Homo sapiens: one gene and its partner. The protein of the gene in region 2 purifies or fractionates together with the protein of the main gene of each other region. This does not show direct contact. Each region holds a gene or a part of one and is shown on either strand. Other genes may lie near its edges. The genes, in order: LRRTM3 and DIAPH3.

Evidence for each region.
Region 1: the proteins of DIAPH3 (region 2) and LRRTM3 purify together in Homo sapiens (co-immunoprecipitation; one large-scale study listed by IntAct). This does not show direct contact.

Annotation. Positions count from the first base shown.
Region 1 is NC_000010.11:66,928,918-66,932,736, reverse strand, and holds part of LRRTM3 (leucine-rich repeat transmembrane neuronal protein 3 precursor), read right to left. Parts: intron 1-3,819. UniProt on the Homo sapiens protein: Exhibits a limited synaptogenic activity in vitro, restricted to excitatory presynaptic differentiation. May play a role in the development and maintenance of the vertebrate nervous system.
Region 2 is NC_000013.11:60,160,952-60,165,474, forward strand, and holds the start of DIAPH3 (protein diaphanous homolog 3), read right to left. Parts: upstream 2,978-4,523; 5' UTR 2,816-2,977; coding exon 2,636-2,815; intron 1-2,635. UniProt on the Homo sapiens protein: Actin nucleation and elongation factor required for the assembly of F-actin structures, such as actin cables and stress fibers. Required for cytokinesis, stress fiber formation and transcriptional activation of the serum response factor.

The DNA of each region.
Region 1 (3,819 bases), on a different chromosome or scaffold from region 2:
AGCAGTGACTTTCACCTATGTATTATTATTATTTCTTTAATTCATTTTTAATTAGAGCTATTTGATACAAACTATTTAACATCCATCCATTTTATTTCTCTTAAAACTTGTGTCATTCAAATTTACCTATATATTCTGTTGTGCTCATTGTTTCCCCCAACTGCCTCTGATTTTTAGTGTAGGTAGCTAGGAGAATACAACAATAGCAAAACTCCGTGGGTTAGCTACAGATCTGGATTCTAATGAGAATCCAGAGCAAAAAGGAATAGATGAAGCAACACAGATTCTGAATTTTTTATTTCTCATGGCTCGATTCTTACTTGCCATGTCTGGAACTCACTTTATCTCAGGCTTCATGACCTGATGCTTGTTTCTGATGCAGTCTAATCCACACTTTAAATAAACGATTTGAGTTCTCATTTTGGTAAATGTCAAGGGAAGAAGAGATATTTCATGCACCTACAGCATCCTAAAACCTCTTGCCAAATCCATGAATCTGACTCTGCATTATCCTTCCCCAGAAGGAGAGCATAATTTCATTATCCATGAATCATCACCTCTTAGACTGTAACATCATTGTCAGAGAGCCTAATAGAACCAGTGTTCAGCTGGCTGAAAAGGGGGAGGGAGGGAGAAAGCGCTGAGGCAAAGCACAGGTCACTGGCACAATCAGCAAACTGGAGAGTTCTAAAGCCGGAAGGGGAGGCCCCCCTCCTTTGACACCTTTGACATATCCCTGACCAGTAAATGACTGATGCTGACTCTTTTGATATAATATTAAAATTTGTTTTTCCTACCTAAATTACATGTATCTTGCTGATGAAAAATATTAACCCCTTTAATAAAAATATCAAAATGCTTAGCCAGCATCGATGAGTATAAGCACTCTAAAATATTTCTTATCTATTCTTATTGCGTTATTACTCGCTTTTCATCTTGGACACTTATTTCTAGCCTTCAGTACCAATTCTATGGCCTCTGTTCCAGCATTACTATAAAAGTCAAAATGAAAAGTATAACATTCAAAAATTACATTATAATTATATTTCCCAAGGAAATGAATTAAATAAAATTCAAATCTGATTTACTAGTCAAAAAACATGTTGTAAACCACGTTTACATAAGGATTCAGGATAAAAAGCTAAAATGTGTGAATAGCTGTGGTTAGTCTAACCAGACACTAGAGGTCACTGCTGCTCCATAGAAAGACAATTTACTGCCTGTCTACTTAGGTAGTTCACTCACCAAATCAAGTAAAAAATTGTTTAAATTCTTTGAAAAGATGTAATGTCAACGTCCTTGGAAAATACAAACTCATTTCAATGCAATATATCTTGCATAAGTATTGCTTACAAGACTGTGGCACTGGGACTATTTAACTACATGCTGTGGTAGCACTATGTGTACTGGGGTTAATAAAAATGGAAAAAAACTCACATGAAGTTTAGAGACTAAATCCCATTTCTTCTCTGTTTTGGTAAAGCAAAGTATTCTGTGTTCTGTTGTATAGTTCAACAGGTCAGGCTTTTTTTTTTTTTTTTTTTAACTGTTGTCACCTTTGAGGGAAGTCCAATATTTTATGTAAATACGTACTAGAAAAATAAATATCAATCACATTTCTCTAATCTGCATGAACTTGAAATACTTATACAAATAGATTTATGATATGTAGTCCAGAAAGTACCATGGGATGGAGGTGAGGCAACAACTTTTGAGCAGGAGACTGGCAGTTGGCGTTTTAAAATTTACAGTGGTAAACTAGTTATTAAATCTACAAGAATTATATATCTGTGCTCAGAAGATACTGAGAATTACAGAAGATTCATTCTCAAAGAGTGAGGAGAAAGAAAGAACTTTTTTCCCATAATTTCATGTCCCAAATCAAAATGAGTTTTACCACCTAAGGGATTTTATTTTCGTTCTTATCTATTATTATGTTTATTAGTAAAGTTAGGCATTAAAAAGTGACAGCTTTCAAAATATTGGTGATTCATTTAGTGTTATATCATATTTTATATTCCAAGTAGCTTTGAATTTTAGGAATGCTTTTCAATACAGCAAGCATATTTTATATATACTAGTAGCACCATGGCATTGAGAATTTGCAATAATTCAAAAATATAAGTATTCCTTGCCTAAATATATTTGGTATCCATCACAAGTAAGGCAGAAGGTTAAGTGAAAAAGAATAGAAATGGGGTTCTTCACTTTAAGACTGCATTTCATTAATACAAACATCTTTAGTACAGATAAAAATGAGGCTAGCCAAAGAAAATTTCTTTTTAAGATGGAATATGTATTTACTGATGCTTTATGAAAAATGTAAAGTTACAACTTCAGTAAAAAAATCACAATAAGCTCAGTCATCCAGTAAGCTGTGAGGAAGTATCTGCATTATTAATCCATTGGAAATATGTGACTTTTTGTCATGAATACATGTATATTCAACAATTATTCATGGGTAAACATTGTAACTAAGATGTTTTTCTGAAGTGGCATCTATTGTAAGATTTAATCAATATCAAAGTACCTTGAGAAATCCACTTTAACTATTTCTTTTTCTTTATTGCTTATAAAAGTATGATTTTAATGATCTGGCATCCTTAAAATTTTATTTTATGGTGACTTGCCTAGATTTTTCCTCTCAGCATATGAAAAACCCCCAAACAATAAAAAAAAATTAGTAAAAATAGCCATTCACTTTTTCTTTGTTGCTGCAGTGATTCTGTTTTCAGAGAAGAGGGACATGGTTAAAGATGTAGGGGTTGGCAAGCCAAATTAAATGAAACAGCCTCAATGTTGCAGTTCCTGATATTTGCTTCTATAATAGAACTGTTCATTTTGGAGGATGAAGGAGAATACAGACTAAATATATCTTTCTAAAAACCTTAATTGACTGTGGTTCAAGTTACTCAAATATGGAAGCTATGATATTCGTGCTGCAGTCAATAAACTTTCACCAATGACATAAAAACATGCATGCAGCTTGCAGATTGCCAACAGGGTCTGTACAGAACTGTACTGATGGATGAGTTCACAATACAGATGAACGCAGGGACATTGTAATGTCAGCAATAGAAAAGCAACAGAGAACTGTCATAGTGTTGGTCTTTTTTCCTCTAAGATTCGTTTTATACATTTATTAAGGTGTTATCAAAGTCGTCCTTTTCAATGAGGCTGTGGGTGGAAGGCACGTCTTGGAATGTGTTCTCTTTACACATCTGAATGAAGTGTCTGTCATTAGGGGACTGGTGTGTGCAGGACATGTAATGGAACACAACAGGGCAGCCTGACAAATTCTGAACAGAACAGGACAGAGCTAAGGATTCTACTAACTACATTAGGGTCTTCGAAAAAACTGGAAAGAGAAATTCTGGTAAGCTCTCAACCACATGCCTGTAGCAAGCTGCTTTCCCATTCGCGAACCTTATCTGAAAACTCCCTAACTAATGTGAGGTGTGGTGGAGAAATCTGGCTTCTCAATGCTGTTTCATTTATTTATTTATGAAACATACAGGCTAGAAGAAATTGGCAGTGAAACCTCTAGTCTGATTTTACAGAGATGGGTTTCAGAGACAAGGCTGAGTCGAAAACTTTACATTTTTGTCATCTCCTCACATTTTGCAGTTGTCTGCTTGCAGTATTTTAACCCTTCATCACTTTGTCCCTGTGCTTGCCTTACTGTAATTCAGACACCTCTGGAAACTGCTCAGGGTGCTGCTTTAACCTAGCACCATCTTTTGATAGTTTCCTGCAATTTTCTTTTCTAAGTCAGGCATTGGTTTAAAGGCTCTGCCTGTCTGTAAAATGTTCCCATAA
Region 2 (4,523 bases):
TTGGTAGAAAACAAGAATTTGCCAACTTTAACAGGACTCAAAGTAAAACAAGATTTCAGCGGGTACCAGAGCTCCTGCTTTCTTACACTAAGATAGGAGGGAGTGACCAGTCTACCACTCCATTCTACTACTCGCTTGCTGCTTTGCAGAAGTGTGCAAAACACTGGCCACCTAAATTACTCCTATCCATCACATCACCAACCTATATTACTTGTTCCCATCAAAAACAGCTGCCCCAGGCTCAGATAATGACTGGGTGACCTGAAAAGATTTAGGATAACGTCACTTCATCCAATCAAGAAAAAGCCAAGAACTAACTTGACATCTGCAAGAACAGTGACTGACTTGACACCTACAAGTACAATTACTTTCTGAGGCATTGCTGGGAACTTTGATGGTCTCAAAGATCCCTCTCCATCCAAAAAACAAGAGTTACTGGTGTGCAATCAAGAGCAGTGAAAGGTAGGCAAACTGGGAAGAGCTGCTCAGGAAGCAGTCTTGAGACTGGGATACTGAACTTTAGTACAGGAACAGAGTAGAGCTGTGCCTGGAACTTCTGCCCATGTTAAGATTTCCAGTTCAACAGGAAGGTGGTCCAAAATCAGTAGCATGCCCAGGCTCCTTGGCAGACAAACTCAAACTATCTCCAAAGAAAAGCATCTCTGGAATCCTACAGGTGAAGATAAAGCAATGAGCTTACAAAGATAAATACACACAAGAAAGAGAGCAAGCCATCATGAATCTGAGTCAATGTAGACAGCCCAGGTTGCAAACAGCAGAACTGTCAAATAAAGAATAAGAACAATCAAGTAGGAAATGTCTAAAGAAATAAATGAATAAGAAACAAAGGACTATCAAGAATGCCCAGACAGATTTGAAAAATAAGCAAATGGAACTTATTAAAATAAAAAATAATTGCTAAAATCAAATATTCAGAAAAGTAGCAGATTAGACATAGCTGATAACAAAATTAATGAACTGGAAGATATAACTAAAGAAATTACCATATAAGCAAGAACCTAAATTAGTTTCAAAGTACCAAGAGTCCAAATTACTTCTAAATTAACTGGAAGTCATGATTCATACCAGACTCCCACCCAAAAACACAGTGTTTTAGATGTGTTTTTTACCTTTACAGCTTAAGAGTGTTATCTTTTAGATGTCATTTCATCTTTATGAGAATCCATTTAACAAATGGCATGCTGAGATGGTCAATGTGACATACATAAGAATGAAAAACAGCACAGAGACTGGAAACCAAATGATGAAATCCTTCAATGAAACTTAACATAAATACTAATTTAGATCCTGTTTTCATGACCTCCTTGCTGGGAATGAGTCACAGAAAATAACACCTCCTGTATTCTGGACCACAGAAGTTAAAACAAAATAAAATAAGATTATTAACCCAGAGAGTAGACTATAAAAGGAAGAAAAGTCATTGCCTTAGTGGATTCTTCTCACATTAGGCAAAAATCTTTCATTGGGAAGTTAACTCTGTCCTATTCATTCTTCAGATTTGTCAAGATAATGATCAAGTCCATACTTGATCCTTCTGCAAAATGTCACTATTCCTATGACCATTTTGATACTTAATTTGGCATAATTAATCTATGCTGTTCCTCATTTTCAATTAATCTATGCTGTTTCTCATTTTCAGTATTCTGATATATCTCATGTATCAGAATATGGGCTCTCAGTCTTATTCAACTATTATTTTTAACTAAATGTTATAGTTAGCAACTGGTTCACAAACCATTATTCCCTTAATTTGTGAATCATGACTTAAATTTCTCACAATTTTTACTTGCCCACATAAGGCAAATGCTGTACTCTCTCTCTCTCTCTCTCTCTCTCTCACACACACACACACACACACACACACACACACACAGTTTTTCCATATTCCTAAGGAAAATGGTGGAGTGGTCAATGTGAAATTTCAATTCTGTTGGACTCATCCCAAATCTATCAACCCTCTATGTGATTTATTTACACACACAAACCCCAAAATAATCATCACTGCCTATACTTTCACTAGTTGACACCAACGAAAAGACAAGGTGTTAATCATGACACTTTCCTTAAGTGTTAAACACAAGCAAACCAGAATAGCAAGTTTCAAATATTTAGAATTCTTTCCAAGCTAAGCAAAACATTCTTTAGCAGTGACCACACCACCCGCCAAGTTCTAAAACTAGCTGTTTCAACTTGGAAAATTATATCTACCTTAAAAGTTCTTATATGTAATTAAAAGTTCTTATTAAAATAATAAGCAGAAAAAAAACCTGTCACCTAAAAGTTCATTTTGATATATCTTATACCCTCTTACACTAGGGAGGAAGGGAGAACTTCGACTTAAAAAATGCAATGTCCACCTAGATGACGTCAATACATATACACGTTTGAACTGCTTTTCACATCAGCGTTAAGAAATTTGGGGGCAACACAAAGATCTGGGCATTTGTCACAGGATCCAACTACAACTAGACCCGGTCGTTGTCAATCTATGATCTTTGGCACCTCTGGATCTCTAGAATAAAACTTGGTCCCCAAGTTCTTGTGGGCCCACCCTCGGCAGTCAGCCCTACGGCGGGGCGGGAGCGGCCCCACCCTAGCTCCAGGCGATACTCACAAACTTGGGGCGCTTCTCCCCAGGCTCCTCGGGGCCACTGGGCGGCGGAGGGTGTTGGGGGCCCTTCCTGCGCGGCATCTTGCTTTCCCGGCAGCCGCGGAGAGAGGCTGAGGAAGGGTAGGGAGTCCCAGCGGCTGAGCCTTGGGCCGGGTGGTGCAGCCGCGGCTGGTGCCGTTCCATCTTTCCCCGCAGCTCCGGGGACCGGAAAGAAGGTGGCCACTCAGCAAGCCGCAAGCTGGAAGCTGAGGGATCGACAACAGGTTTTACTCCCGGGGTCCGCCACCCAAACAGTCAGCACAGCCTAGCCCAACCGCTGAAGTCGGGGCCGCAGCCAACACATCTGAAAACTCCCGCCACCCGTGTTGGCCCGGGACTGGCCAATCCCGCGCCGCCGGATCAATGACACGCTGAGGCACCGCCCCTTCCGGGCACTGCGAAACATGATTGGCCTTGCGGCCTGTCTATGCAGCCGCTCAACCCTTCCGGCGGTCCAGGCCGCTCACCTTAAGGACGCAGAGTGGCGTCAGATTTGGAGAAGCGCCGGGGACCGTGGAGGAAGTCATCGGCCTGGATTTCTTTGGATTTGCAGATAGGGTTCCAGCAGAACTGGAAGGTGGGCGAGACAGGCCCTGCGCCACCATTTGAGCAGCGCTGGGATATAAAACCATCTGCTAGCCCTCTCCTTGCACGTCTGGGGCTGGAAAAAGTAGTTCTGGGACTGGGTACGGTGCTGGAAGGGGTACTAGGCAGGATGAAACGACGGGGCCCACGACGCTCCAAAAGGAAGCCTTCTGGACATATTTCCTGCCTAAGTGCTCGCTCTGGGGTGGCAGAGGGGTCCACCCAAAATCAGACAGAGCTAGGCTAGGCTGAGCCCTTCAGGAGCTCACAGTCTCCTGTAGTTTCCAAACCCTAACACAATTAACCAAGGAATGTAAATGTCTATAGCAGTTGTTTTAGAAGTTCCTTGAGAACAAAAAGGGAAGTTATTAAATCTGAAGGAGTGGATCTGGAAAGGTAAAAGGAAAGCTGCATAGGTTTTCACTAGGCAGGAAACAGTGGCAGGGCATTCATTTAAAAGGCATTCCATTCCAGGCAGGAGCAAGGCCAAGAAAGCATAGAGGTGAAGAAACTTTAAGGTCACATAACAAAGGGCCTTGAACTGAAACCATGCAAAAGAGTTTGTTGTGTAAACCCAAGGTCAAGCTACAAGGCAAACACCGTTTTCTCAACACATCAATATACCCTCTTTAAAAATGAGCTTTTCCTTGGAACTATTCCTTTAAGATATCTGTCTTCTGATTATATGGAGGTGGTGTAGGCCAAGACTCGGAAACATGCAGTATTGATTTTGGTACAAGAAACAACTCTAGGTACTCTGAGGAGTTTGGCACAGAGGTTCAAAAAATGAGCCTTAGTTCTCAGTAAGTCTTCACACTACAGCTTTTCTTTTTTAATATTTGTTTTACTGTGCCAGACTCTACAGCTCTGTCCTCAAAGAGCACATAATCTTTAGGGAAACTTACAGGAGAACAGCAAGGTCAGGAGAACTACAAGTAGTTCCTTATATCTTGATGACAGACCCAGATACAGATTTTATTCCTGCCATTTACTAGCTATTTGATACCGGAGATGACGTTTAACTTTCTTTGCTGCTTCATCTACAAAAGGGGGGTAATTATACTAATACCTATGAAAGAGGGGCATTTTCAGGCCTAAATAACATAGCATATGTAAAGCCCTTAGAGTTTTGTCAATGCTCCTACAGGAATACTGTAGTTGAAGAAGTTGGGATTATTACTCAGGGAGGGAGAACATGCACTATGGGGAGCCATGAAGTGTCTTAGGTAAATGGTATTAGAAAGCACTTAAAGGATTTGGGCTTTGA